Regions from separate parts of the Homo sapiens genome. Here regions 1 and 3 are each linked to region 2. The links come from fine-mapping of genetic effects on gene expression. A gene starts in region 2. Each other region holds a variant in brackets. All regions are shown on one strand. Distances are from middle to middle.

Region 1 (8,178 bases), 730 kb before region 2:
CCAGCCTGGGTGACGAGAGTGAAACTCCGTCTCAAAAAAAAAAAAAAAAAAGAACGATGAGGCCCAGGGAATGCCATATATGCTAGGCGGCCAGTCTGGGTTCTTAATGACATTTTTGCCCTTCACGTCTAAGGCCTCTCAATCCCTAACTGGAGAGCAACCCCAGGAAATTCACAGCATGTTTGTGGGGAGAGCCAGTTAGCTGAGGAAGGAGAACCCTTGAGCGGTGTGGGGAGAAGTGGCCACCCAGCCTTGGCCAGAAGAGCTGCAGCAGAACCCAGATGCTGGGCGGGCCGGTGCCGGACCTTGACGGTTGGCTCTGCCACGCCAATACACACAGGCACTCCCAGGCAGCCTCAAGGTCCCTCCTGATTCTGTCGCTACCCTGGCCAGCCTTCCTTTTCTTATTACTCATTCTATTCTACACATTTTTTAAAATGTTATCTTCACTTTGGACCTTCTTATTCTTTGGCCACACCTAGGGCATCTTATCTCTCTAAGAGCAAGGTCTCTGAGGCACTAAACGGCTGGCTTTAGGATTCTGGGAGTGAGAAAACTGTGGGTGAGGCCAGAATAACAAAGTTGGCATTTATTTGACATTTGCCAAACTCTTGCCATGAATTATCTGATTGCATTCTTCCACTTCCCTAATGGAATATGGACACCAAATGGAAACCTGAGGCTCAAGGGGTGTGCTAGGTCATCATCAAATGGTGCAGCCAGGATTTGGACCTGGACTTGTCTGAGGTACCTGGATTAACTGCTGGGCTACAGAGCAGTGTGGTGAGGGAGATACAGGAGGTGCCTGGCCAGGCGCAGTGGCTCATGCCTGTTATCCCAGCACTTTGGGGGGACCAAAGTAGGTGGATCACCTGAGGTCAGGAGTTCGAGACCAGCCTGGCCAACACGGTGAAACCCCGTCTCTACTAAAAATACAAAAATTATCTGGGCATGGTGGCAGGCGCCTGTAATCCCAGCTGCTACTCAGGAGGCTGAGACAGGAGAATCACTTGAACCCGAGAGGTGGGGGCTGCAGTGAGCCGAGCTCACACCACTGCACTCCAGCCTGGGCGACAGAGCGAGACTCTGTCTCAAAAAAAAAAAAAAAAAAAAAAGAGGGCCATAGATGTACTAAGGTTTCTCAGAAGTGATTAGAGAAGCTTCAGATGGGTTTTACGCAGTCATTCAACAAGCATTTATTGAGTACCTACTGTGTGCCAGGCAGTGAGGACACAAAGATGAAAGAGTCCCAGCCCTCAAAGAGCTCGCCGTCTGAGTGGACATGTCAAGTAAACAGGCTATTGCCGAGCAACGTAAGTGCGATATTAGAGGTGTGTACTCCGCATGGAGGTAGAGGGAGTGATTACCTCTGCTGTGTGTAAAACACATATTGATTGAGAGCTTTACCATGGGCCAGGTGCTGTGCTGAGCGTTGAACAAGACACAGGACGGAGTGGGGAATGCTTTGCAGCAGTGACAGCCTGCACAGTGGCATGGAGGCATGGGTCACTGTGGTTACCTGGGCAAAGGGGGCTAGGCCTCATGCTGGACACTGGGGTGCAAACAAGGGCACAGCATTGGAGAATGAGGCTGGGCCCCATCTTGGAAGGCTTTGGAGGCCTGAGGAAGGGGCTTGGGTGTTACCTATACATGGAGGCCTTCCCAGCCTTTTGGAGGATGAAGACTTTTTCAAAAACAGTTAAAAACTTCTGATGAGCCGGGCGCAGTGACTCACGCCTGTAATCCCAGCACTTGGGAGGCTGAGGCAGGCAGATCACAAGGTCAAGAGATCGAGATCATCCTGGCTAACACGGTGAAATCCTGTCTCTACTAAAAACAACAAAAAATTAGCCGGGTGTGGTGGTGGACGCCTGTAGTCCCAGCTACTCGGGAGGCTGAGGCAGGAGAATGATGTGAACCCAGGAGGTGGAGCTTGCAGCGAGCTGAGATTGCACCACTGCACTCCAGCCTGGGCGACAGAGTGAGACTCCATCTCAAAAAAAAAAACAAAAAAAAACAACTGATGAGCTTCCACATGCTTGGAATTTGGCTTTTAGTGTCTTTTTTTTTTTTTTTTTTTTTTTGAAACAGAGTCTTGCTGTGTTGCCCAGGCTGGAGTGCAGTACCACGATCTCGGCTCACTGCAAACTCCGCCTCCCGGGTTCATGCCATTCTCCTGCCTCAGCCTCCCAAGTAGGTGGGACTACAGGCGCCTGCCACCACACCTGGCTAATTTTTTGTATTTTTAGTAGAGACGAGGTTTCACCGTGTTAGCCAGGATGGTCTCGATCTCCTGACCTCGTGATCTGCCCACCTTGGCCTCCCAAAGTGCTGGGATTACAGGCGTGAGACACTGTGCCTGGTCTAGTGCTTTTTTTTTTTTTTTTTTTTTTTTGAGACAGGGTCTTTCTTAGTTGCTCAGGCTGGAGTGCAGTGGCACAATGACAGCTCACTGCAGCCTCAACCTCCTGGGCTCAAGCAATCCTCCTACCTCAGCCTCCCAAGTAGTTGGGACTACAGGCACACACCACCACACCCAGCTAATTTTTAATTATTTTTAGAGACAGGGTTTCACTATGTGTTGCCCAGGCTGGTCTCGAACCACTGTCTTTTTTTTTTTTTGAGACAGTCTTACTCTGTCACCCAGGCTAGAAGTACAGTGGCACAATCTTGGCTCACTGCAACCTCTGCCTCCTGGACTCAAGCGATCCTACCACCTCAGCCTTCTGAATAGCTGGGACTGCAGGCATGCGCTACTGCGACTGGCTAAGTGTTGTATTTTTAGCAGAGACAGGGTTTTGCCATGTTGTCCAGGCTGGTCTTGAACTCCTGGTCCCAAGTAATCTGCCTGCCTTGGCCTCCCAAATTGCTGGGACTACAGGCGTGAACTACCGCACCTGGCCGAACCAGTGTCTTTATATTGAGAAAATACATGCGTACTGAGGACTCTCTCAAATGGTCAGTTTCTCTCCTGCACTGCTAACAGCTCCTCCTGCAAGTCTGTCCCTTCTGTCTGTGGCTCCTCCCCACTCATTATAGCCAGAGGGTCTTTCAAACATGCAAATCTGGTGCTGTCCACCCCCTACTTAAAGCTCCACCACAGCTTCCCTTTGTCCACAGGGTCAAGTCCAAGCTCCCCTCTCTGCCCTGTGCTCTGGCCTTTGTTTACTGATAAACTGCTCTGCACAGGTGTTGACATGCTGTTGCTAATGTCACTTCTGTATGTGCTTTTTTTCCTTATTGGCACCCCCTGCTTCAAGGGGGAATGAAGTCAGGAAGTGAGGGGTCTGGCCAGCTTCTAAAGATGCCTTAGGAAGCCTTCCCATGGCTCAGACTTACACACATCTCTATAGCTAACAGAGGGAGGGCACCGGTGGGAGGCAGCAGGCACAAGTCCTTCAGGGCATGTCATGCTGTGCCCGTTGTCCTGCCCTGGCTCCTGCCCCTACCCCAGGGTGTAGGGAGGGCCCTGGCTGTCCCTTGTCTATGGGGCCTGGGCCAGTGCACCACCTGGTATGAAGTGAGGCCAGGTGGATGTCAGCCTGTGGCCTCCTGGACTTTGCTGGAGCTCTGCGTCCTGCCGGGATGGTGAGGAGGCAGAACCCTGAGGGCCTGATCTGTCCTGCAGAGTGACTCAGTCTCCCTCTCACACATCTGGCTTCAAAGTTCTGAAGGTGACTTGGTCCTGGGTGGCTGAGGAGTGATTTCTTAGGTCAGAGTAGACCAAGGCACATAGGAGGGCCTACTTCTCTCCGGTAAACTTCTCTTCTGGCACTAAAGGGTGCTGCGGACTGGGATATTCTCAGAGGAGGCCTGACATCCGGGTCATGTTCTGGGGTCCCAGGGGTCCCATTTAAGGCTTTAACCTGTGGCTCAGGTGATAAGAGGAGACTCAGGACCAGTCCCTTAACAGGTTGGTGGAACTGTGAGTAGAAATTTTTTTTTGCTCCGCCCCTACCCAAAGTGGCTTCATTGAGATTCAGCCTATCTCCCACCCTTCCTGTGCTGTGATGAGGGACTCTGGGGACTGGGAGTGAATAGGCCCTGCTGAGTGCAGGGAAGACACACTCTGGCCTTCCTCACGCCAGGCTGGAGACCTGGCACTGGGCTCTGCTCCTAGCAGCCTGGAAAGCTGTTATTCTAGAACCTGATAACTGCTTGGGCTGGGCTGAAGATAAGAGGCAGCTGTTTGAAGTCCAGAGAGATAACAGCTTCAGAGAAATTTGATAAGAGGAGTGAGATGCACTGGGTTAAGCTCACCAGTCTCGCCTGTTTGCCTTTTGCCAGTTTATAATCATAACCAGCACTGTACTCTCAAGTCAGACTTCCCAGCACCGCGAGGAACCTCAGTGTCACTGTCTCTTAATGGTAGTCTGTGCATCTCTCCTGAGGTCCGCGCCTGGGCCTGCAGGCCTCTGTGCTTGTTCTATGAAATGACCCTCAGCCCCCAGCCCTGCCTTTCCAACCTCATTTCTTTCCTGCCCATTGGTTCTTTTTCTCAAATGTATTCACTCCTGCATCCATTCATTTAACAAATATTTTATGAGTGCCCACTTTGTGCCAGGCACCATTCTGGGCACCGGAGATGCACCGAGGATGCCACCAGGCATGGTCTCTACTCTCACTGGGCTGTGTTCTGGGTAGCCGGAGACAAAAGATAAATCAATAATTGTAGTGGGTGCTGAGTGCAATGGAGGAAAGTCTAAGAGGGCTGTGGTGGGGAGGGACTATGGGGACAGCACAGGGTGGCTTTAGAGTGGTCAGGATGACCTTCCTACAAATACCCTGGGGGATAAGAATGAGCCATGCCAAAACCTTCCTGGAGAGGAGAGAGCCAGCGCAAAGGTCCTGGGGCAGGAGTGAGCATGATCTGGGGGTTAAATAGAAGCTGGAGAGAAGAGGATGGTGGGCAGAGGCCTGATGAGGACAGTCAGACAGGCCTAGATAAGAAGTCTGGAGATGATGATATGCAGAAAACCAACCCACAGGAAGGTGAGTCAGAAGGAATCTGGTCTATGTTTTGAAAAATTTACTTTGGGCTGGGCGC[G/A]GTGGCTCACGCATGTAATCCCAGCACTCTGGGAGGCTGAGGCGGATGGGTCACAAGGTCAGGAGATCAAGACCATCCTGGCCAACATGGTGAAACCTCGTCTCTACTAAAAATACAGAAATTAGCCGGGCATGGTGGTGTGTACTTGTAATCCCAGCTACTTGGGAGACTGGGCAGGAGAATCGCTTGAACCCAGGAGGAGGAGGTTGCAGTGAGCCGAGACTGTGCCGCTGCACCCTAGCCTAGCGACAGAGCAGGACTCCATCTCAAAAAAAAAAAAAGAAAGAAAGAAGAAGAAAAACTCACTTTGGCTGCCATGTGGTAGCCAGGGCAGAGAGACAGGCATGGTGAGCAGGAGGGTCAGCATGGGAGGATGGATGCTGGCTCTGGTACTGACTCTCTGTTAGACCTTGGGCCAGACACTTAGCCTCTGTGCTTCTGTTTTCATAGCTATAAAACAGGGTTTCTCTTCACCTGTCTTCTGGTGCTGCCCTGGGTGCTGCCCCAGGTGAAGAATGCTGTGGTGAAGGAGACAGACCCTGCCCTTATGGGACTTCCACTCAAATGGAGGAGTCAGACCTCAAACCAGAGAATCCACAGGGAATGCCAAGTGCTATGTGAGAAATTAAAATAGGATGATTGCTAGAGGGTGACAGGGTGTGATTAGAGAAGCCCACTCCAAGGAAGTGACATTTAGCCTGAGACCCGAATGATGCTGGAAGGGCCCTTGAGGAAAGGAGCTGGAGGGATGGCCTGCTTTACTGGTCTGGAAAGGTCAGACAGGCTGTGGCCTGTGGGAAGTGCTCTGCAAATGTTTGGAGTTTTTTTGTTTTTGTTTTTTTGAGACAGAATTTCAATCTTGTTGCCCAGGCTGGAGTGCAGTGGCACGATCTCGGCCCTCCACCTCCTGGGTTCAAGCGATTCTCCTGCCTCAGCCTCCTGAGTAGCTGGGATTACAGGCACCCGCCACTACACCTGGCTAAGTTTTTGTATTTTTAGTACACATGGGGTTTCACCATGTTGGCCTGGCTGGTCTCGAACTCCAGACCTCAGGTGATCCATCTGCCTCGGCCTCCCAAAGTGCTGGGATTACAGGTGTGAGCCACCGCGCCCGGCCTGCTGCTGTTTATTTGAAGGGCCCCCATGCCCTGACCTGAAGCTGCCCACATCTGGACCTGCCTCATTCAGGGAATTCTGAAGTCTTCTGGATAGATCCTTAGCAAAGTCCTTCCATCGCCCCTCCCCCAACGCCCTGCCCCACCCTGCCAGTCACATACAGGCTTGTTCTGAAGCCTGTGAGGAAACTGTCCCTCTCAGCCCCACCTCCATGCCCAACCAGGCCGCCCCAGCACAGCCTGCCTGACTCCTGGAAACAGATGGAATCTTAGATCCAGTTTAATCCTTCCCATTTTCCATATGGGGAAACTAGGGCCATGTGTTTTATCTAATATTCCTTTTCATATAGTCTTTTTTTTTTTTTTTTTTTTGAGATAAGACTCCTGCTCTGTCACCCAGGCTGGAGTACAGTGGTGCGATCTCGGCTCACTGCAACCTCTGCCTTTCCAATTCAAGTGATTCTCCTGCCTCAGCCTCCCGAGTAGCTGGGATTACAGATGTGCACCACCACACCTGGCTAATTTTTGTATTTTTAGTAAAGATGACGTTTCACCATATTGGCCAGACTGGTCTCAAACTTCTGGCCGTATATGATCTGCCTGCTTTGGTCACCCAAAATGTTGGTTTTTGGGGTTTTTTTTGTTTTTTTTTTTTGAGATGGAGTCTCGCTCTGTCCCCCAGGCTGGAGTGCAGTGGCGCGATCTCAGCTCACTGCAAGCTCTGCCTCCCGGGTTCACACCATTCTCCCTGCCTCGGCCTCCCAAGTAGCTGGGACTACAAGCGCCCACCACCATGCCCGGCTAATTTTTTTTTGTATTTTTAGTAGAGGCAGGGTTTCACCATGTTAGCCAGGATGGTCTCGATCTCCTGACCTTGTGATCCACCCGTCTCAGTCTCCCAAAGTGCTGGGATTAGAGGCGTGAGCCACCGCGCCCAGCCAAAATGTTGGGATTATAGGCATAAACCACCATGCCTGGCCCCCTTTTCCTATATTCTTTCTTTCTTTTTTTTTGTTTGAGACAGAGTCCTGCTCTGTCACCCAGGCTGGAGTGCAGTGGCGCGATCTCAGCTCACTGCAACCTCCGCCTCCCAGGTTTAAGCAATTCTCTGCCTCAGCCTCCCGAGTAGCTGGGATTACAGGTGCATTCCACCATGCCTGGCTAATTTTTTGTATTTTTTTTTTTTTGAGACGGAGTCTCGCTCTGTCACCCAGGCTGGAGTGCAGTGGCACGATCTCGGCTCACTGCAAGCTCTGCCTCCCGGGTTCACGCCATTCTCCTGCCTCAGCTTCCCAAATAGCTGGGACTACTGGCACCCGCCACCATGCCCAGCTAATTTTTTTTTGTATTTTCAGTAGAGACGGGGTTTCACAGTGTTAGCCAGGATGGTCTCGATCTCCTGACCTCGTGATCCACTCACCTCAGCCTCCCAAAGTGCTGGGATTACAGGTGTGAGCCACCGCGCCCGGCCATTTTTTGTATTTTTAGTAGAGACAGGGTTTCACCATCTTGGTCAGGCTGGTCTTGAACTCCTGACCTCGTGATCCACCCACCTCGGCCTCCCAAAGTGCTGGGATTACAGGCATGAGCCACCACACCCGGCCTCCTATATTCTTTCAACAATAGTCATTGAAATATTTATTGAATTCCTACTGTGTGCTGTTTTAGGCACTGAGGATACAGCAGAGAACAAAACACAAAAATCTTGTCCTCCCAGCCTGGGAAACATGGTAAAGTCTTGTCTCTACAAAAAATACAAAAGTTAGCTAGGCGTGGTGGTGCCTGCCTGCAGTCCCAGCTACTCAGGAGGCTGAGGCAGGGGGATAACTTGAGCCTGGGAGGTTGAGGCTGCAATGAGCAAAGACCGTGTCACTGCACTCCAGCCTGGGTGACAGAGTGAAAACCTGTCTCCAAAAAAAAAAAAAAAAATTCTGTCCTCATGAGGCTAATATTCTACTTGGAGCAACTGACAATCAAAATACAATTAACAACAATTATTGTGGTTATTGTTACGGG
Region 2 (8,171 bases):
TGTAGGACTTAATCCAACCTCCTACCAGGTTTTTCTCCTGGGCATTATAGTCCTAAATTTGTCTTAAAAGGTAGTTAGGGGTCGGGGGAGGGGGGAGGGAAAGCATTAGGAGATATACCTAATGTAAATGATGAGTTAATGGGTGCAGCACACCAACATGGCACATGTGTACATATGTAACAAACCTGCACGTTGTACACATGTACCCTAGAACTTAAAGTATAATTTAAAAAAAGGAAAAAAAAAGTAGTTACAAGTGAGTTCAGGGTTTCTTTTGAGGGAGATGAAAATGTTCTACAATTGATTGTGGTGATGGTTGTACAACTCTGAAAATATCAAAAACCACTGAATTACACATCATAAATTCGTGAATTGTATGGTATATTTCAATAAAAGGGTTTTTTTTTTAAGTAGTTATAAGTTCTTCCTTTGCTCAAGGATGTTTCTACTGATAAGCCTCTTCTCTAAACGTTAAAGGCTTAAAGTGGCCAAAGATACAAGTAGGGAAAGATTTCATGACACCAAAGAAATAGGGAAAACAGAGAGAGGGTTAGGCCTAAGTCGATCAAACCCCAAATTAGGGAGAATGATACGCTGGAAAGGGAGTAAATGAGCTCCATATCATTAACACTTCTACCATACAAAGAAGTGTATAAGTTCCTCCCTCTTCTCTAGGAGTGGAACCAACAGGCTCACTCAAAAATGGTGACTGTATTAAAACATTTAAGGGCAGTTTTACACTTGGCTATAAAGATGAAGGAATCAAACTAGTAACCACAAGAAGTTAAAGCTGAAAAATTTTTGTCTCTTGTGGCCTCTGGGGTTTGATTTAAACCTTCTCCGGACACAAAGAAGAAATCTGTGGAATCTAGGCCCGGCACGGTGGCTCACGCCTGTAATCCCAGCACTTTGGGAGGCCGAGGCGCATGGATCACCTGAGGTCGGGAGGCAGAGGTTGTGATGAGCCACTGCACTCCAGGCCTGGGCAACAAGAGCAAAATTCCGTCTCAAAAAAAAAAAAAAAAAGAAATTTGTGGAATCTATCTATGGCCAAATGTGAGACATTTGAAAGCAAGAAAATAAGTTACTAAAGCCATAAATATATTCCTATCAAAATTTGGGAGACAAAAAAGTATTTACTGAGCAGCCAACTATTTTTCTGCCTAATAGTTACACCCTTAAAATTACTCATCTCCAAATACCACAAAGTGATATGGAAAAATATCATTTGTCCTTAAACAGACATCTAAGTACAGTATCATGGAGGAAATTAAAAATTTGCATTTTAAAGGTGACAAAACCAGAAGCCAGATGAATTGTAAATTTAAGAAGGTTTTGGTCCAGAAAACAAGCCTGGTTATCCTACATAGTTGATATAATTTGAAACAAAGGTTTGTATTAAACTTCAAACTCAGATTTGAAGTATAGTCTTCTTGACTTAATCACGTTTTCTCACATTTATCTTACTATATTTTCAAATTTCTGAGAACCCCTAAGCTGCCATATACAAAATAATGTAAGTACTCTAAGTTTTCAGAAGCCAAGCAGTTTGGGAGTCTCACTGAGAAAGCAGCTATAAACTGAAACTATATTAAGTACCATTGGTAAAGATACAAAGGTAAGAACAAAAGGAGACAGAAATGTTTTATACTTCTCCTTACCTTCTAACAAGTAAAATACCAATAGTTCCAATTCCCCTTCTAATATAACCATTTGTGTTCCAAAAACTCGGTGAACAAAAATCATCCAGAAATACAGACATTATATATATCACCATGGAAAATATTTCACACTTCTTGAAGGGTTTTTTTGTTGCTATATATCAACTATATGAAACCACTTGTTCACAGTTAGCTTTCCCAAAAACAAAACAGTTTCTAAAACAAAGACTGTTTACATCTCTTAAGAAGCCTTTGTTCCAACAAGACCCCTCTTCAAGAGCTACAACTTCTGGAAAGATTTCCCTTTTTGTGGTTATATCAACAACAAATACTCTCAAACTCTTTCCATTTGGCAAAGGAGTTTGTTAAACAAAGGAGGAAGCAAGTCCCCTCCACACAAAGGAGGTCTCCAAACAGAGTACTGGTTGTATTTGTAGATTATTGGTGCCTCTTTAACCCCTTTCCTCAGGCTGTACTATGTAGCACTCTCAATACAAAATGGTGGCCATCATGTCTGTCTGACATTCAGAGTGAGAAAAAGGCAATTCGATCACACATTTTGCAAAGATTACCATTAATATTCTAGCCAAGATGAGGAAATGGGTAGCCAAGCCTAACCAGAGCAACACTATCTTTTCAGAAAAAGGGCCCTCTAAAAGGCAAAGAACAAGAAAACAAGATAAAGGATTTACCCCAGCCCTGGTATACCACAATACCAACATGGAGGACACCTCCCAGGAACCTGACTCCCCACGTTTTGGTTACTAAGAACTTAGTCAAGTTACCCAATTTCTGAATAAAATCCCATTATGCAAATGTGCAATATTCATATTCACCCTTCCTAGCATGTGACATGAAGCTACATTACTACAGTGTGAAACATGACCTATTATTCAAGAATTAAAACCTTGGCTCTAACCAGCCCTGTTATAACTTCTGCAGGCCTCTTTGCACTAAGAGAAACGTACTTCCCTTAAGCAGCAAGAATCAACCTTGCCCACTTCGCTGTAAGAAATGGATCTATTTTCAAACATTTCCCTCATATTCGCTGGCCAGTTATTTTCTGAAGCATGTATTTCATCTCCATTTTCAAACTTGCTTAAGAAAAACTAAAGTAGGTGTCCGTGTTTTAATTTGGGGCAGGGAAGGGTTAAGAAGCCTTATTTTCAGGGATCTCCCTGAAAACAGCTTTCCAAAACATAACGATTACAAACAGAATCCCTACAACTCAAAATGTCATTACAAAAAGCAAGCTTAAGGGAGAAAGGGGTGGGAAGGGGTCTTCCTCTACTTAGAAGTGGGGGTGGGGGAAGAGAGTGGGGAGAAGATTCTTAAACAGCAGGAAAGGCAGTTAAACCCGCTTCCCAACGGTCCCAGCCCGTCCAACCGCCGCTTAGGCCAACTCGGACTCAGACCCTCCCGAAAGGTGGGCAAAAAAAACAGGGGTGTAGGAGCGCACCCAGTTCCGGCCACGGAGGAAGGAGTTGGCCGGGCTCTCCTCAGCGAACGTTGGAGCCGTTACGGATGGTTTCAGCAACACCCACCCCTCACTCACTGCCCCCAGGCCCGAGGCGCTGTAGACAGGGCTGGAAGGGCTGCGGTGGGTGACTGCCTTTCAGTGCCCGGAGCCTGAGGGCCGGGGGAAACGAGCACGAAATCTTCGGAGGTCTCTCCGTCTGACGTTCCCCTACAAACACGGCCTCGCCCGGACCCCATCCCCACCAGCACAGCCCAGGCCTCCCCGGGGAGCCGAGCGGCTGAGCCAGAAGAAGCCGGGAGTGTGCGCGTTCGGGAGCGCGGGCGGGCATCGGGGCCCACCGCCGCCCGTCCTGCCCCCGCCGCCCCAAAAGTGTCCCCCAGACACTAACGCCCCCCACAAACATCCGCTCCGGGGCTGGACCCGCGGCTCCTCCCCGCCCCCAGCCAGCGCTGGCCGCCCCCTTCTTGACCCCGGCCCGGGGGACACCTGGAGGCCCGGGGACCAGGCGGTGGAGGGGTGCCCTGGTCTGGAGGGTGGGGCGCCCAGGTGAGGGCCGCTCCGGGCCGACGCCGCCACCACACAAAGGACCAGGGGCTCCCGCCGCCATATTGAAAACTTTCCTCCTCGCACGACAACTCGCAAGTCCCCCACCCCCACCCCACCCCATCACACACCCCCGCACCCCGGGAGCGGAGGCGAGGACCAGCCTGCCGAGCCTCGCCGGGCCCACAGTCCTCCCTCCAGCCCGCGCCTCCGCCAGGCTCCGTGAGGAAACTCCCCCGCGACCACCCCCGGCTCCTGCCATCACTCCATCCGGAACCGAACCCGAACCTCCGCACCCGGCCGCCCGAGCCCCGCGGCGACCCGGCCCTCCCATGGCACCGCCGAAGCCCCCGGTTCTCCCACGCTCCTCATCTCCCACCCTGGAGAAGCCCCCGTCTTCCTCCCCCGGCCTCAACTCCGACCTTCTAGGCAGCCCCAAACTTGACGAGGCCGGCGGGGCGACCGGCTCCCCGCCCCCCGCGCCTCGGGCCTCCCCGGACCCGCGCGTCCCCGCTCCCTCCCCCAGCCACGAGCTGGATCCGGGGTGCTGGCGTGACTCACCGGCGGCGGCCGCACCTTACAGATGCCAGTCTGCTCGGCTATGGGCCGGATCTTGTGGATGAAAGCGAAGGGGTCCGCGAACTCTTCCCAGCTGGGTTCGAAGACCGGGCACTCGGGTGGAGGCAGGAACTCGCCCAGCGGGCCCGGGCCCCCGAGGGGCAGCGCCGGGCGCGGGCCTGGGTGCAGTGTGGTGGCCGCCTCCATCACCGCAGGCTGGGCAAGGGCGAGGCGAAGGTGGGCTCCGGGACCGAGGCTGCGAGCTCCGCTCGGTCCGAGACCCGTGCAGACGCGGCTCGAGCAACAGCAAGTCCGAGTTGTACGGGCAACGGCAGCACCTTGGGCTTTTTCAGCCTCCGACGACGACGTCTCGCCGCAAGCCCACGCCGTGCGCCTCCGCCGCCACGGCGAGGAAAAAGAGTCCCACCCCACCCCCATCGACCCACCCTCCGCGCGCGGCTCCCCGCCCCGCCCCCGAATCGGGCGGGGCCGCGCCTTCCGCTGTGGATGGAGTTTATCCTTAGGGTTTCAGTTGAGCCAACTTTTATTGACCATTTACTATGTATCAGAGTTCCTGCCCTGAAGAAGTTAAGTCTGGTAGAAAGGATCAGTCCCATAAGCCAATCATTCAATCACGTCAGTACACAATGGTAGGTGCAGTAAAACCCAGGAGGGGGTTTTGGAAAGAGTATTGGAAACGGAGAAGGATTTTCCAGTAGAGATAACAGCTTGAACATACACATAGCATGTTCATGAGAAGGCAATAGTAGTAATAATAATAATAACGTAACATTTTGGGGCACTTTCATATCCTAGGCACTGTTCTAATTGCATCGCATGATTAATCACACAACCCTATGAGATAGGTACTCTTATTTCCACTTTACAATAAGGAAAGTGAGGCATAGGTAGGTTAAGCAATTTGCCATAATTCACATGGCTAATAAGTGATGGAGACTATTGGGAGGTGGAGATGTTGCAGGGAAAATAATCATCCACAAACAGTCTATGACGAGGTCAGACTTGAGAGGGGCGAAAGACTTGAAATAATCCAGACAAGGAATGATAGGATCTAAATTAAGGCAGTGGTGCTGATAATTATGAGGAAGGGATGCAAAGGTAGGAAATAAAATTAGGACATAGTGACAGATTGAGGGGGGACGACGAGGTATTAAGATTCAGATGTCTGGCGTACCTGCCTGAGTAGATGCTAGCCCGTTGGCATTGCTGGAACATTCACCCCAATTATATACAGAAGGCGAGTTACTCAAGGGAAGAAGATACTGTGTTCATTTCTGGACATTTTGAATTTGAGGTGTCTCTGGTACATACAGGTAGAAATACACAACGGGGTATCCTTCAACAGACTGAAGGGTATAAATCTGAAGGGGCGAGATCAGAATTGGAGATATAAATCTGGGAGTTATGTGCTTATGGGTGATAGCCGCTATTTAATGCTACTGTGTGTAAAGCACTGCTCTAAACGCTCTGCATGTATTAGCTCACTGAGTCTTCACAACCACCATATTGAGTAGGTACGATATTATCCTCATTTTGCAGAGCAGGCAACGGAGGCAAAGAGGTTAACGAACTTTAAGAGATACGAACACTTTTGAGGCGCCTTTTTTCTTTTGGCGGGAGACGGGGGACGGGGGTGGGGGGGTAGTGTCCAGCAGCCTCAGAAAAAAGGAGGAAGCTCAAAAAGTAGAACGTCAACATTGAAATGACCTCTTTCATCCAGAAAGCTGCCAAACGTATGCAAGGAATGTTTGTCAAGATCTTAGTTCGCTTTCAGATTCACCTAGTGGAAGGAAATCTCTTATGCTTAAGAAGTCTTCAATTAAAAGGGGGGATGGGCGTGGGGGGAGAAGAAAACCGCCTTCCCTTCAACAAATTTTTCCCAGAGGTACCGGGCCCAGGAAAGAGTTCACAGTGGTCCTGGGAGAACGTATTCCTTTTCTTAGCTCTCCAGGGCTTTGGGACCTGGAGTCTTTTCCTGCTCCCTACTGCAATGGAGAGTCAAGCCCAGGGGACAGCTAATACACTATTAAAAGAATTATCAGTGCAAGATAGATATGCGATGTGGCAAGTTATAATAGAATCTAGGTAGTGGGTATAGAGGAATTTGATGCAAATTTCTTTTAACTTTACTGAATATTTAATAATACTAAATAAAAGTTGGGTAGAAGAATTATCGTCGATGGCTCTTTGGTGCGCATTCTGGGCCTCCGAGGGTCTTGATGAAGCTCATGTAGTGTCATGTGCTCTCTCGGGAGAGCGTTGACTATTTTCACTCCTAACGTTGGCATCCTACGAGCCAGGTAGGCATAACTTTGAGACAAATTCTAGACTTACATGAGTTATGATTATTATTTAACTGAGATGGACAGGAAGAACAAGCCTAAGAAAATCTTTCCCAATTCTCAGCTGCGTCCTACGATTCCCTCTCGCTCCCAACTCTCAAGGTCTCCCAGTCCGGCTTCCTCCATTTCCGGTAGTGACCCTAAGTGATGAGATTCTATCGCTCCCAGATCAGGCCGCAGCTGTTTGGCTCCCAGCAGACCCGGTGTGACGTTAAGGGACGGGGCGGTTGCCGGCGTCTTGAGGGGAACCTAGGGACCGAGAGGACTCTCCGGGAAGGCAGCCGCTCCCCCGCCCACAACAGACGCTCCCCTTGCCCTTTATGATGTTTACATGGGCGGAGGGATCCCTCCCAGCTGACAGCCACACCGCGCCGGCCCTTCTTTTTTTAAAGAGCCTAGCCACGGGCGCTGACTGGCCGGCAGCCGGGCGCGTCATCCTCCGGGGGCGGGGCCCGGGCCGCATTGTCTCGTCTAGGGCCGGCTGGACGCCCCAGAGGCCGGACCTGGGCAACCCCAGCCTGGAGGTGCCGGGGCCGGAGCTCCCAGAGGGCTGGGTGCGAGGCCTAGGCGGGGTCAGGTTCGGGTTCCTAGGCCATAGCGGAGCTGCAGCCCAGGCGGCCGGAGCGGAACCCAGCCCCGCTCCGAGTGCCACGTCTCCAGGAACCCCCTCCTTACTCTTGGACAACACTCCGCCCCCGCCCGGGCCTCCGTCCCCCAAACCGCCCTCATTTGTGCAGCGCCAGATCCTTCGGACACATCCCTAGGTGTCTCCATCCTCATTCGGTCCATCCAACTCCCAGACCTCACGTCAACCGGCTGCACCCCACTTTCCAGCCTGCGCCCCAGATCTGCAGCCTTCGCCCCTAGATACACCCGCCTGGTGATGAGGCGCTCCTCGCGTTCCTTCCGGTAACCGCGTTGCGAAGACCACGCTGCCGGGTTGCAAACTTGGGGGGACTTCCTCCCTCCCCTCCCCCTGGGCGCCGTGCAACTGCCCTGGGACCGGGTTCTGGGATGAGGGGGGCAGACCGGGCTCCCCAGCGGCCGGCGCAGCACGTAGCGCACGTGTAGGGTCCGCTCCCCACCCCCTCGCCGCCTCTGACAACTTTTCAGGGCTCCAGGTGTCCGTGAGCCTCCCTTCCGCCCTGGCCTCCGGTCTCTGCCTTGCTCGTGCTTCTACCACCACCCTTCCCCTCCCAACCCGGTGGATCCTCTCGTCTCCCCCAGTCTCCAGTGCACCGGCTTTCCCTCGTCCTCTGCGCAGTCCATCTCAGCTCATCTCTCCAATTCAATGCCATCATCTCTCCTCACCATCTCTCGGTGCCCTGGAATGTTTGCTGTCAGATGTCCCCTGTGAAACCCACAAACGCTTGCGATTTGGCCTCCTTGTTTTATTTTGTGTAGTCCTACAACGTCTTGTTACTACCCCCTATTACAACACTTATAACTCAGTATTTGTCTTTTTTCCGCGGTGTCCCTGCACTCTCCCCATACATATTCCTCTCCTGCCAGATTGTAAGCCTCTAGAGGGAAGAAGTAATGTCTCTCTCCTTGGCACCAGGCACG
Region 3 (8,178 bases), 29 kb after region 2:
ATGGTTTTAACACAATGGCCAGGTGCAGTGGCTCACACCTTTAAATCCCAGTGCTTTGGGAGGCTGAGGTGGGAGGATTGCTTGAGCCCGGAGTTCAAGACTAGCCTGGGTAACAGAGTGAGACCCCCCACCTCTACAAAACAAAAACAAAAACAAAACAGAATCATCATCAACAACAAAACAACAAAAAAACACTACGAGCCACTGTTTTGCTCTGTTCCGGGGAGGCTTTCTCGAGTTAACAGTTTTGCCTCAGGTTACCAAGTACTTGATTGGGTTACAACTTCCTGGAAATCATTTTTAGCTTCAGAAGCACTGGTCCCCTAAACGGATTCCTGGGACATACCCCTATCTCTGTCAGTAACACTAAGCCCCTTTGAGCGTGTATTACTCTGCAGATGGCCGAATCGATCTGTTGTTGATTCTATTAACTCCACTTTCAGAGGTTGGCATTTTCCTCGTACTGACCCACCCACCCTATTTGAGGCTTAACATTGTTTAGGACGAGCCAGCAGATGATTTACAATGAGTGTTATTATTCAAAAGAAAGTCCTATATTTGCTACAGACTGGGTGTGGTATCAAAGGTTGGAGGGGCCTGGAGTTTAGGGTGGAGTTCGGGCCAGGTCCTGGCCAAGCCCTCACATGCGGGCAATGTGAGTTCAAGTCATACACAACCAAGTGGGCATGCCATGTCCCCCAGATAGGCCTCCTTTTTGTGTGCTGGGTCGTGGGTTTCACCTTGAAGAAGGTGAATGGTGAGCATAGACAATGAGGGAAGTTATTATGGGGTTGGCAGGGGAAATGCAGTTAGGAAAGAAAGGAACATAGGTCACCACATAGTCCCAGGGGCTCTGGTGATAAGTTCTGAGAATGCCACCCTTCCTGGGCCCTCTTCTCCTTAAAGGTAACGCCAGGAAGGGAGGGGGTTTATTGCCTGACTGAGCCTTACTGGCCTCCCATCCCCCAAACCTTCTTCTCTGGGACATTCTTTTTTCCCTAAAGTGGAGGCCTTGCCTTCTGTTGAAGTGAGGGTTAGGGCAGGGGAAGACAAGAAAGTCAGCTTGATAAAACTTGCTGGCCAGGCATGGTGGCTCATGCCTGTAATCCCAGCACTTTGGGAGGCCGAGGTGGGTGGATCATCTGAGGTCAGGAGTTTGAGACCAGCCTGGCCAACATGGCGAAACCCCATCTCTACTAAAAATACCAAATAAATTAGCTGGGCATGGTGGTGGGCAACTGTAATCCCAGCTACTCGGGAGGCTGAGGCAGGAGAATCACTTGAACCCAGGAGGCGGAGGTTGCAGTGAGCTGAGATCACGCCATTACACACCAGCATGGGTGACAGGAGCAAAACTCTCTCTCAAAAAAAGCAAAAACAAAAACAAAAAAAAAACAAAAATAAAACACAACATGCCTTAATTTTCCTTGGGGGAAGTGAACTCTACAAGGAGATCAGCCTTGGTTACCAGAAAGCAAGATGCTTCTCTGAGCATAAATGCTGCTGTTGTCCTCCTCCAACTCCTTGCTTGGATTTTTTGGGACAGGTGAGATGCGGAGGTTAAGGGGCCTTGGGCTTGGGTCTGATTTCTGGTTCACTCTAGGCCCTGGTCTCTTCATAAACACTTTCCTCCAAATCTTCATTCCATGCCCTGCCAACCTCATTCTGGCCTCTCACAAGCTGGACACCGTCTTACAAAAAGCTCAAGGAATTAAGATTCTGTTTTTGGGAAAGAGGAAAGGTGACATCCTCAAGTTAAGGAAATGTTGCTTAAGAGGATTTTTGGAGAGTTGAATAAAAGTGAAGGGGCTTTCTAACAAGGAGGTTAAAACCATGGCTTTTGGAGTCTGAAAGGGTTCAAAGTTTACCTGTCATTTACTAGCTGAGTGACTTTGGGAAGTTACTTTAACTTCTGGACCCCATTTTCTCATCTGGTAAAATGGGGTTACGAATACAGGCTCTGAGGATTAAGAGGTGAGAAGTACAATGAATACTTAGAACATTGCTTGGTACTTAGCACTGAAAAATGCTAGCCATCGCTAGTTTTACCAAAGAAAAAAGGAGAAAAGATGATGTGGTTCCTGGCAGGTGTTCGGTGGCTCCCTGACACCCACATTCTCCGCACCCTGCCCGGAACCTCCTCCCTCCTTGTCTGCATTAGTAATCCCTGCCTCCTCTGCAGGAGCCAGCTCAGCGGCCCCTCCTCTGAGCTCCCAGGGCACCTTGAGTTGGATTTGTCTGGACATTGGGTTCCTGTTTTACCTCCAAATCCACTGCTAGAGCTCAGTGGATGTTTGTTGAATTAGTGAATAATCCCTTGCTTTTGTATGTCACTTCAGTTCATAAAGCTCATAGGAATACATTATCTGATTTAATCTTCAGAAGCACACTGCAGGGAAGATCCTGTTTTATGGATTAAAAATATACATATATGAGAGACCGGTTACCTGGAGTCTGCATGGTTCATGCAGATTGCGACAACCTAGACCCTGCCTGAGGTACAGCTCCTGGGTCACCTCATGCAACCAAAGGTGGGCGTCTCGGGGAGGTTCCCACCAGCGCAGGGAGGTGGCTTCTGAGCAACCTCACTAAAGTCTCCACCAAATTGCCAGCAGGGCCCAGGCCTTTCCCTGACTGTCCCAGCTCTCTCAATGCAATGAATCTGGGAAACCCAAACATCCTGCCCCTCTTACCCCATCAGACCTGCCCTTCCAGGGATATGGCTTTCCCTCACCCAGGGAAAAGGCTGAGGGGGCCTCAGGCTGCTGTGGGGGACATGGGTGTCCTCCTTTCTTGGTGACCAGCAATTTGACTTTGGCCAGTGTGAAGAGTGGGGCTCTGATGGGGGTGTGGGAGGAGGAAATGAAGTGGGAGCACAGCCCGCCCCCATCCTCTTTGCAGCCTCTGGGGTTCCCCTCAGGTCTGTCTGGCAGCTGTCTTCCCCACTGACCTCTTTTCCTCCCTCTGTGCTGGCCACATCCTTCCTTTATCAAAAGCAGCTGCTTTGGGTTCTCCTGAATTGCCTTTTAGGTGAAAGGCATTTGTGTTTCTTGGTAGCTGGTTCCTGCTGAGTAAGGCGGGACAGGCTCTGGCTTCCCAGGTGAGACTGGAGAGGCCAAGGCAATCCTTCACTCCTGGAGAGCTGGGGAGGAGCCCACACCACTGGGGCAATTGAGACCCCGTCCCCTCCCCTCCCCTCCCCTCCACTCCACTCCACTCCCTTCCCCTCTCTCCATCTCCAGGACCCAGCAGCAACCCTTTTTACTCCAGGTTTCTCATTCATCCAAACATTTACTGAGCTCCTGAGTGCTAAGCACCTGAGAGGAGGGTCTCAGTGTCAGTGTCACCTCCTCCACGAAGCTTTGGAGCTCTCCCTGGGAATAAGTAAGCTCTTCTCTGGTTATTATAGTTCAAAGGAAGGTGCACAGACGGTGGTGCCACTCAAACTTGGGTTTTAATTCCAGCGCTATTTACTAGCTGAGAGATTTTATGTTATTTAACCTCTCTGAGCCAGTCTCTCCACCTATGAAACAGGGATTCCAGCTAGCACACAGGGTTGGCACTGGGGCTAAAGGGAGTTCTCCATGTAAGGCAAATGAGAGACACTTGGAGGGCATCAGCTCAACTCTCCCTCTCCAGGAGATGGAGGTGCCTAGCCTTCAGCATTTGTCAAGCCTGGCACCCTCTTTCACCCCATCACATCCTTCCATGGGGGACCACAGGCTTCAGCCCATTCCAAGGGCCTCTGTTGCTCCTGCTGACGTATCCCTAGGGGCTCCAGGGCAATTGCACACTCAGCCCTGGTCTTTGGGCTGCCCCCTCACCAGGTCTGGGCTCCTTCTTTGTTAGGAAGCTTCAGACAGGCTCAGGCAGGCAGGACATTTCCACTGTTGCCAGCCCTGCCCCAGGTAGGTGGGGAGGAGCAGATTTCTCCCACCCAGTGGCCTCAGGGCATAGTTCTCCCTTTTCTGGTTAGGCTACTTTAGGAGCCCTGTGCATGCAAGGAGCAATATTGTTATCCATGAGGGCTAAGAAATGGGGCAGAGAGACCATCCAGGCTCTCTGGGTCCCCTACAGGCATCATCACTTCCCTTGGGTGTGGTGGTGTCTCTCTGGTAGGAGAAAGAGCAAGAGGTGGGGCAGAGGTGTGGTCTGGATATGTAATTTCAGACATCTGACCTTCAATTGGAATAAGGATTCCAACTGTCTTTATCTGTAAAACGGAGGTAATATCTTCACAAGGTTACTGTGGCAATCAAATGAGACTAATGTGTGGGAGGGTTCAGAACTGTAAGGCAAGAAATCCATCACAGGACATTGCCCAATTTAAAGTCCTTCCATGGCTTCCCCATAGCTTTTGGGGTACAAACATGTTTACCACAGCCTCCACCCAGCTCACTAACCTCATCTCCCACCATCTGACCCACATGGTTCTTGAAGCTGAGCTCATGCCTGCTCTGGGTCTCCTGCATGCGCTACTTCC[T/C]GGTCCGGACTTCCTCCATCTAACCAACTACTCATCATCAGCTTTTTAATCTTTCTCAGAGAAGCCTTCCCCGACTCTTCACACAAGGCCAGGGCTGCTTGTTACTTGCCCTCTTCGGACCTTCATTTTTGCACACTTACAACGAGTTGTGTGACTGTCCAAGGTCTGCATCCGCCCACCTCTGTTCCCTGAATGTGGGCTTCCTGAGGATAGGTACTGAGCAGCATGCCGACAGTATCTCCAGGCTTTGCAGGGCATTTAGCACACGGTAGACATTTTATTTGTTGAAAGAAAAAAGCAGCCGGGCGCGGTGGCTCATGCCTGTAATCCCAGAACTTTGGGAGGTTGAGGTGGGTGGATCATGAGGTCAGGAGTTTGAGACCAGCCTGACCAACATGGTGAAACCCCATCTCTACTAAAAATACAAAAATTGGCGGGCATGGTGGGGCACGCCTGTAATCCCAGCTACTCAGGAGCCTGAGGCAGGGGAATAGCTTGAACCCGGAAGACAGAGGTTACAGTGAGCAGAGATCATGCCACTGCACTCCAGACTGGGGGACAGAGCGAGACTCTGTCTCAAAAAAAAGGAAAAAAAAGAAAAGAAAAAGGCTACTGATTCAGAGGCAGCTCCGCCCCCAGGCCCCCAGGCTCTTCATCCACTCTCCTTAGCCTGAAATTTGTGGCATTCACAGTCCTCCCCAACTCCACTAGACTCAGCAACTGCTCTTAGTCCAGCAGAGGAATCAGGAGCTGACTTTCCTCCTTGCTCCTCCCTATCAAAACTCAAAATTCTGGTCACTTGCAACTTCCTTCTTGACTCCCTTTCATGAGACCAGAGAACGCATGGCCTGTTTACCATGTCACCTCAGTTTCTAGTTTGGGGCTGTTGTGTAGATGGATCACTTGCCTATTAGTAAACCTCCTGAGGATGGCTCCCATCCCTCCCTGTTAGGCAAAGAGCAGAGCCTCTCGAATCCAAAGGCTTGAGCACAGGTCCAAGTCCAGCACTGTCCCAGTTGTTAAGGCTTTGGACAGATCAATTACTGAACCAGTTTCCTCATCAGTAAAATAGAATACCATTTCACAGAAGGGTGGAAATCAGGAGGTACACAAATTACGGTGTTCGACACTGCTAAGCACTCTATCTGTGCAGCGCAATGTGATAGACTCTACTTCATTTTCCATGTAGGGTAACTGAGGCATGGAGGGGTTACACAGGCGGCTCGCTCACACCACCATTAAAGTAGTCTGAACTCAGGCAAGCTCCCCCAGGAGACCCAAGCCCTTTCCTAACTGCCAGACTTGCTCTGTTCCCTTAAAGTCAGGGGCAGAAAAGGTGCTCAGCAGTTTCAGGTTATTTTGATTCAAATTTGGCTGGGTGTGGTGGCTCACGCCTGTAATCCCAGCACTTTGGGAGGCAGAGGTGGGTGGATCACAAGGTCAGGAGATTGAGACCATCCTGGCTAACAAGGTGAAACCCCGCCTCTGCTAAAAATACAAAAAATTAGCCAGGCGTGGTGGCGGGCGCCTGTAGTCCCGGCTACTCAGGAGGCTGAGGCAGGAGAATGGCGTGAACCCGGGAGGCGGAGCTTGCAGTGAGCCAAGATCGCGCCACTGCACTCCAGCCTGGGCGACAGAGCGAGACTCCGTCTCAAAAACAAACAAACAAACAAACAAACAAAAAAACAAATTCACCAAGGCAGCTAGGGAGGTTTGTTTCCTGGAGCTCACTTGGAGCTTGTAGAAGTACGTGCTGATGTCACAAACAGGGATGTAGAAACTTTAGAGATTCCCCTTCTCCCTCCTGTATTAACAAGTGAACTAGCTGGGCGTGGTGGCTCATGCCTGTAATCCCAGCACTTTGGGAGGCCGAGGCAGGCGGGTCACAAGGTCAGGAGTTCAAGACCACCCTGGCCAATATGGTGAAACCCCATCTCTACTAAAAATATAAAAATCAGCTGGGCGTGGCGGCGGGCACCTGTAATCTCAGCTACTTGGGAGGCTGAGGCAGGAGAATCACTTGAACCCGGGAGGTAGAGGTTGCAGTGAGCTGAGATCGTACCACTGCACTCCAGCCTGGGTAACAGAGTGAGACTCCTAAAAAATAATAATAATAAAATAAAATAAAACAAATGAACTCCCACCTTGTTCTTGCAAGGGAGGACAAGAAATTACAGTGTAATGATGAGACAAGAAGAAATTACTATGTTCAAAAGAGGTGAAGGAACTTGAGTCCCTAACACTATTTCACTATTACAAATTTTTTTTTTTTTTCTGAGACGGAGTCTCGCTCTGTCGCCCAGGCTGGAGTGCAGTGGCGCTATCTAGGCTCACTGCAAGCTCCGCCTCCCGGGTTCACGCCATTCTCCTGCCTCAGCCTCCGAGTAGCTGGGACTACAGGTGCCTGCCACCACGCCCAGCTATTTTTTGTATTTTTAGTAGAGACGGGGTTTCACTGTGTTAGCCAGGATGGTCTCAATCTCCTGACCTCATGATCCACCTGCCTCGGCCTCCCAAAGTGCAGGGATTACAGGTGTGAGCCACCGCACCCAGCCTGATTTCAAATTTCTTAACCTCGGCAAGTTAGCAATTTTTTTCTTTTTTTTTCTTTTGAGACATAGTTTCACTCTTGTCGCCCAGGCTGGAGTGCAGTGGCCCAATCTTGGCTCATTGCAACCTCCACCTCCCGGGTTCAAGCTACTCTCCTGCCTCAGCCTCCCAAGTAGCTAGGATTACAGGCATGTGCCACCACGCCCAGCTAATTTTCTATTTTTAGTAGAGACGGGGTTTTGCCACATTGGCCAGGCTGGTTTCGAATTCCTGACCTCTGATAATCTGCCTGCCTTGGCCTCCCAGAGTGCTGGGATTACAGGTGTGAGCCACTGTGCCTGGTCATTTCTTCATTTTTTAAAGCTATATTTTGTTTGGGCTATGAATGTCAGAATGAGGAACCTTTTTTTTTTTTTTTTTTGAGACGGAGTTTCGTTCTTGTTGCCCAGGCTGGAGTGCAACGGCATGATCTCGGCTCACTGCAACCTCGGCCTCCCGGGTTCAAGCGATTCTCTTGCCTCAGCCTCCCGAGTAGCCGGGATTACAGGCATGTGCCACCACGTCCGGCTATTTTGGTATTTTCAGTAGAGATGGGGTTTCTCCGTGTTGGTCAGGCTGGCCTCGAACTCCTGACCTCAGGTAATCCACCCGCCTCGGCTTCCCAAAGTGCTGGGATTATAGGCATGAGCCACTGTGCCCGGCCGAGCAAACTTTTTTAAAGCTATATTTTGTTTGGGCCATGAATGTCAGATCGAGGAACCTTTCTTAAAACATGCACCAACACAGTTTTACTGCATTCTTGTTTCCTTAAATGTCTGAGGCTCCTAGGGCAGTGGTTCTCAACTCTGGCCGCACATTCGCCTCACGTAGGAAGATTTTTACTTACTTATTTATTAATTAATTTTTTTTTTTGAGACAGAGTCTCGCTCTGTCACCCAGGCTGGAGGGCAATGGTCTGATCACTGATCACTGCAGCCTCAACTTCCCAGGCTCAAGCGATCCTCCCGCCTCAGCCTCTTGAGTACCTAGGACTACAGGTAAGCATCACTATGCCCAGCTAATTTCTTATATTTTGTGTAGAGATGGTATCTCACTATGTGGCCCAGGCTGGTCTCAAACTCCTGGGCCCAAGTGATTCTCTCCCG

Evidence for each region.
Region 1: its variant is fine-mapped to the expression of KDM5B in unexposed skin (GTEx, PIP 0.93).
Region 3: its variant is fine-mapped to the expression of KDM5B in whole blood (TOPMed, PIP above 0.99).

Annotation. Positions count from the first base shown.
Region 1 is chr1:202,072,076-202,080,253 of GRCh38, forward strand. No RefSeq gene overlaps it. Among named protein-coding and RNA genes, the nearest start is that of GPR37L1, 47 kb to the right of the region's middle. RefSeq lists enhancers at 42-541, 3,189-4,036 and a cis regulatory region at 3,908-4,347. The variant G/A (reference allele first, on the strand shown) is at 5,048.
Region 2 is chr1:202,803,857-202,812,027 of GRCh38, forward strand. It overlaps KDM5B (lysine demethylase 5B), which reads right to left and starts at 4,565. Exons shown (of 27, transcript NM_006618.5): 1 at 4,246-4,565. The coding sequence starts at 4,449. It overlaps LOC124904583, which reads right to left. Exons shown (of 3, transcript XM_047439549.1): 3 at 6,382-7,703. The coding sequence ends at 7,179. PCAT6 (prostate cancer associated transcript 6) reads left to right here and starts at 7,098. Exons shown (of 2, transcript NR_046325.2): 1 at 7,098-7,514; 2 at 7,719-8,056. RefSeq lists silencers at 3,450-3,519, 3,620-3,739, 4,140-4,339, 4,370-4,579, 6,965-7,194.
Region 3 is chr1:202,832,795-202,840,972 of GRCh38, forward strand. No RefSeq gene overlaps it. Among named protein-coding and RNA genes, the nearest start is that of PCAT6, 26 kb to the left of the region's middle. RefSeq lists an enhancer at 5,954-6,502. The variant T/C (reference allele first, on the strand shown) is at 4,484.